2 linked regions of the Homo sapiens genome follow. The protein of the gene in region 2 purifies or fractionates together with the protein of the main gene of each other region. This does not show direct contact. Each region holds a gene or a part of one and is shown on either strand. Other genes may lie near its edges.

The links.
Region 1: the proteins of UNC13D (region 2) and RPRD1A fractionate together in Homo sapiens (co-fractionation; one large-scale study listed by BioGRID). This does not show direct contact.

What each region holds. Positions count from the first base shown.
Region 1 is NC_000018.10:35,991,938-35,994,566, forward strand, and holds part of RPRD1A (regulation of nuclear pre-mRNA domain-containing protein 1A), read right to left. Parts: intron 1,364-2,629; coding exon 1,214-1,363; 3' UTR 1-1,213. UniProt on the Homo sapiens protein: Interacts with phosphorylated C-terminal heptapeptide repeat domain (CTD) of the largest RNA polymerase II subunit POLR2A, and participates in dephosphorylation of the CTD by RPAP2.
Region 2 is NC_000017.11:75,830,894-75,834,404, forward strand, and holds part of UNC13D (protein unc-13 homolog D), read right to left. Parts: coding exon 3,432-3,511; intron 3,251-3,431; coding exon 3,182-3,250; intron 2,153-3,181; coding exon 2,073-2,152; intron 456-2,072; coding exon 350-455; intron 277-349; coding exon 205-276; intron 1-204. UniProt on the Homo sapiens protein: Plays a role in cytotoxic granule exocytosis in lymphocytes. Required for both granule maturation and granule docking and priming at the immunologic synapse.

The sequences.
Region 1 (2,629 bases), on a different chromosome or scaffold from region 2:
ATGAAAATAAATGTTTATCCTAAGTCATTATTGAGTACAAATCCACAGCTTAACAATGTGTTTTTAACAGCAGGAGAGCATGCAACTGCTCTAACACACAGGGTCAGAAATAAAAGGTAAAAGTACATTTGTTTTGTAACTGTAAATATACAAATATAAAATTTACCATATCTACCCTGTAGTGTGGCACTGCTTAACTGCCAAATATACAGTCATTCAAAAACCTTAAGGAAACATTGAAAATGTCTCAGGCTACTTTACTGAACATTAACGAATATTGTGTTCTTGAGCTATTAGAGCTAAAAGTATTATTTTTAAAGTTATATGAGCAAGGGAATAATAAAAGTATCATTTCACGTGTCTTTTAATCCCATAGACGGCTTTTTGTTAAAGGGATTAATTATGTTAAAAGGAAACTGATTTGACAAATAGAAACCAGTTCCAGAACCAAAGTTGTCCTCTTGGTAGAATGTCAAAATGTATATTATTTCCAAAGTATTTTCATTATTAATCTACTCAAATAATTACAAACAGTTTAATCAAGGGAGTCACTATTTAACACTTTTAAAATCTACACTGGCAGTTGGAATGGAACTTTTACAATGCTATTAAGGAACAGTTCTCTAGACTTTCATCTGCCCCTCAAAGTGACATCCCTGTTTTATGTTAAATTACCGACCTCTAAGGAATCAAAGGCATGTAGAGACACAGAATTGATATTTTGTTTGGGGAGAAGGGTAAAGATTATGTTGGAACATTTAGTCCCTTCTACAATCAAGTCCTAACTATACCATAATAAAGTCTCAATCAACTCCTAATTAGTTCTTCCCCTTCAGGAATTACATAGTATACAGTGATTAAATGCTGAAGAAAATAAAGAAAAACAATTGAAAATACCTGAAGAAATACAAACAAGAGATTTCTCACAAGGCCTTGGATCAAAAAAAAAATTTACAAAAAGATCTTTTGAAAATAATCACTATTTGTGAGCTTATTAATACACACAAATCATCACTTTGTTCAAATTAAGTCATGTTAATTTACCAATAAAATAGTAAACAAACCAACATTTTAAACAATTTTATAAATTACTCGTTGTTCCTTTTGTTAGTGTTTCTTTCTCAACAATATACAAAAATAACACTACAGGACTATCCACCTAACCTGTCTCCATCTCTTGCAAAGTCCTGGGACCTGGAAAGAGGCTGGTCCATCAATCTTCACTGTAGATGTCTCCCGCAAAGGGCAGGTGCATGTGGCTGCCAGTGACATTGGGCAATCGAGATAAGTCTGGCAGGCTCTGGATCCGGGACCTGAGTTCTTTGCGCACCAGGGAAACTCTGGCTAGCTTGCGCTTGTACTCCTGTAACATCAAACCACTTTCATTAGCATTCAGGGATTGAAAAAACTTCCTAGCTAATAATGACCTACATAAACCCAGGTACTATATATACTCAGTTAATGCCATATTTAAAAAGGTTATTCCAGTGTGAGTTTTCACATCAAAAGATGAGCTTTGGAAATATATAACTAGTAAACTATTATTATTAAGAAAAACCACAATCTTTAGCTGTTGCTTCACACCAGTAGAAAGAAGACTAACATTAATGTGCTTAACCTCGACATATAAGATGTTCAGGTATTCTTGAGTTTGGGCAAGAAAAATTACATATTTATTTTCATAAACCTTAACTAAAATTTGGCAAGAACATCTATGAAAACTCAGTAGGAATGGCCAGAGTCTGTGGTGTCTGAAGCAGGACTGCTCCCTTCCTGTGCCCTCCCATCTAAGCAAGGAGGGTCCACTCCAGACTGCTGCAGCCAAGAATACAGGATCACTCTCCCTGCAACTCCCAGTGGGAGGGTTTTATTCCCAGAAAGAGCGCCTCTCATCCTACCCCAACTACCTGGTGCTGAAGCTAAGTCCTGAGATAGAGCAGGGAAGAGCCTGGGGACTCCCTCCTGTCCAGCCCCCACTCCTGGAAAAGAAGTTCCTTCTTATGCGTGGAGGACTGAGAATACTTGGGCCCTGATAAGCCTCACCCCCAACTCATGAGGAAGGTGGCTCCACAGCAGAAGAGGCAAGCCAAGACAACCTCAGGCTGCTGCACCCCTCCCTTTCTCCAAAAGCTCAGCACCCACAACAGGGTATCACTCAGAGAAAAGCTTCCCACTATACCCATCTCAGTTCCAGGGTCCTGACTCAAAGATTTGGTCTAAGGAAGTAGCAGGCAGTAAAATAGATATGTCCATGGCAATTCACTATTACCACAGTGCATGGCACAAGGCAGGGAGATTCACGCTCTTTCCAAATGTGGTCACAGGTAAGTCCTGAGAGGACCATCCTAGAGAGTGCATAGATGAGGAAACATCTAAGGAAGAAACCCAGCTAGGAGTTTACTGCAACTCTCCAGGAAAGAAAGGACTAGGGCCTGAACCGAACCAAACCAACAGTAGTAAGGATAGAGCAATGTCCTTTAAAAACTACATTATATGTAAATAATACCTTAATGTCAAAGACTAAATGTTTAGAAAGAAAAATCAGCAGGAATTGGTTGTGGTTCTGCTGTGAGGAATAATGAGGGTTCAGGCTTCATAAGCAGGTGGATATCGGAGCTGTTATCTGAGA
Region 2 (3,511 bases):
GGGCCCCTGTGCTTAGGAGGACCCAGGCTTGGTTTCAGGTTCTGTCGTCACCGTTCTAAAATTTGTAATAACTTTTGAATAAGGGGCCCAGTTTTTCATTTTGTACTGGGCCCCATAAATTATGTAGCCGACCCTGGACATAGGTGAGTGCCAAAAGGCAGGCTCCCCAGACTTCCTACGGGGAAGCTCACCCAAAGCCCCTACCTGGAAGGTGGCAGTGTGCAGGGCCTTGGGTGGCAGGCCACAGCCCTCAGCGTGGAAGCAGATCTCCAGGTTCTGGGGGAGATATCAGAGGTGACCCCAGGCACCCTCCCACCAGGGTTATCATTGCTGTGACCGGTTCTGTTACCTGCAGGGCAATCTTCAGCCTGTTGGAAGCCAGGGATGAGCTGCGCTGGGAGGCGGCCGCCTCCACCAGCACTGTGAGTGTGTGGGTCCAGAGCAGGGTCAGGAGGCTGGGGCGGGGCCGGAGGGATGCGGACACAGCACGGCAGGGCGGTGGCGGAGGAGGAAGCAAAGACGCTCTTGAGAAAGGGGCGGCCTCAGTGACCCAGCCCCACCCCAGCTCCTCCCACCCCCAACCTCCCCCTCCGCCTCCCACCCCAGGTGAGGCTGGGGAGAGGGTGGGTACAGGACCAGCAAGGGGCAGGTGGGATCAGTCCTATCCAACACACCTCTCAACCTCAGTGAGGAACCCTCCCCAGCACACTAACGGAATGCACAAACAAGGCTGGAGACAGGGAGGAGGCCAGGCCCCCAGTGACAACCATGATTTAAGACAGAACCAGGCCGGGCGTGGTGGCTCACGCCTGTAATCCCAGCACTTTGGGAGGTCGAGGTGGGTGGATCAGGAGGTCAAGAGATTGAGACCATCCTGGCCAACATGGTGAAACCCCGTCTCTACTAAAAATACAAAAATTAGCCAGGCATTGTGGCACGTGCCTGTAGTCCCAGCTACTTGGGAGGCTGAGGCAGGAGAATCGCTTGAACCCAGGAGGCGGAGGTTGCAGTGAGCCAAGATTGCACCACTGCACTCTGGCCTGGCAACAGAGCAAGACTCCATCTCAAAAAAACAATTAGCCAGGCATAATGGCATGCACCTGTAGTCCCAGTTACTCAGCAGGCTGAGGCAGGGAATCACTTGAACCCGGAGGCGGAGGTTGCAGTGAGCTGAGATCGCGCCACTGCACTCCAGCCTGGGCGACAGAGCGAGACTCCGTCTCAAAAAAATAAAAAATATATATACATGGTTTAAGAAATAAAAACGGCCGGGCTCCGAGGGGCCCTGGCTTATACCTCTGGGGGTGGAACAGAACTCTAGGAGGGCTGCGGCCTCTTCAGGGCCCAGATTCCACAGGGAGGTGGGGCGCTGTCATCATCATCGTCACTACCGCTAATAGTCACTGACCACTTCCTTTGTACTGACACCACGCTCAGCACCTCACATGACCCATTTAATCCTCAACAGAAGCCAGAACTACTCTCATCTGCACCGGGAACTTGCCCAAGGCTGCTAAGCAGTGATGAAGCCGGAGTCTGAACCCAGGTGGTCCAGAGCCCATGTGCTGGACTCCACCGCCTGTTGCCTGGCATGCTGGGTCCCTGCTATAAGACACCCTAGCTAGAAGTTCTCCCTGCACCGTGGGCAGGGACCACCTGTAACCTAATGGGGGCAGAGGAGCAGGCAGGGAGGCCCTGAAGACAGGCCTGGGACTAAAGGAGAAAGGACAGGTAGATTTTGGCTCAGCCTAAGGAAGAACTCAAAGCACTCAGAGCTAGGCAGCAGGAAATGGGGAGGCCTGAGAAGTGGCAAGCTCCCCGTCCCTGCAGCGAGCCTTAGCAGAGCCTGTTGCACCCATAAGGGAGGTCACCAAAGGGATTCACCTCCACCCCTCAGAACGGATGCTGAGGCCCAGGAAAGAGGGGCCGTGGGAGGAGAGGGGGAGGTGGCGAGCGCGCCCAGGGCAGGGGCTGCTACACCCCTCAGAACGGATGCTGGGGCCCAGGAAGGAGGGGCCGTGGGAGGAGAGGGGGAGGTGGCGAGCGCGCCCAGGGCAGGGGCTGCTACAGACCTGCTGAAGTTCTCCTGCACCAAGTTGGTGTTCATGTAGCAAAGCTCCACCTCCAGGAACTTCATCAGGGGCAGAATGGCCTGGGGAGGGAGATGGGGAGCAGGTGTGGCTCCGGCCCATGTTGGCCCCACCCCCATCCCCTTCCCCTGACCTGGAGGGAGGAAACAGGGCTGGGAACCGTTCTGTGAGAGCAGTTTGTAGTGTCTGTAAGAGGCCGGCCTGCCCACCTCTCTGCCTTCCCCTCTCCGTTGCTCAGCCTGTCCCAGCCACACTGGCCTCCTCTACAGCCCTGGAACCTTCCAGGCATGGTCCTGCCTCAGGGTCTCTGCCCTTGCCGTTCCCTCTGCCTGGAATGCTCCTCCCCTAGAACTTCTCATGCCTCCTCCCCTTGCTTCCCGTAGGTCTTCGCTCAGTTGTCACGGCCTTCCCTGGCCACCATCTAAAAATACAACCCTCTGACACTTCTCAGCCGCTTCTCTGTTTTAAATTTTCTCTGTAGACTTATCATTATCTAGCACACTGCATGTGTGTGCACGCGCATACACGCCTGTGCATAGAGTTAACAGCTATAACTATCACTATAGTTATGGATACTCACTATGTAGCTCTTTTTTCACCTCCACTACTAGAACGTGGGCTCCAGGAAAGCAGGTATTTTGTCATATTGTTCACTGACCTATCCCCAGTGCTTAAATCAATGCATAGGACAAAGTGGGGACCTAATAAATAGTTGGTGAATGAATGAATATCCTTCTACCCGCCAGTCGAAGGTGTGCATCATGATATGCCCCCACTTACAGGTCAGCTGGCTTGTGTGAACAGGACGGCAAAGCTAGGAGGCAGCTGAGAAGGATGTGCACCCTGGCCTGTTTGGCTGCAAAGTCTAAGCCGTCCCCAACTGCAGCCCCCTCATTGACTGTCAGTGCTGGGACAGCCAGTGGAGTGACCCAACCCGTTCCTGTGAGCATCCCAGGAGGAAACTGAGGCCCAGGGAGAGAACATGCTTTGCCTGGTCTGGGGGACTTATCTTTGACACCAAGGCCTTCAATGACCCCAGATCTACAGAGCTGGCAGGGTGGTGAAGGCCAGCAGGCAGAAGGGCCACTTACATCCTCAGGCAGGACAGACTCCCTGACGCCCACCAGTTTCTGGATGTGCTTGGCGATGCCCACCTCCAACTGGAGACACAAAACGGAAGAAGGAGGGAGGTCAGGGCATGAGTCGGGGATGGAAGAGTTCCTTAGGGCCTGAGTTTAGACGCACGAAGGGGTCAGGGTTGGACCTTGGCCCAGGTGCTGCTGGAGCCAGGTAGGCTGAAGACGGGATGGGATGGGGTGACTGTGCGGTCGGACAAGGTACCTGCTCGGCCAGGGTGCGGACGCCAGTGCGGATCTCATGGCCCAGCCCGGCCAGCGCGCTCTGCAGCTGGGCATGCAGCG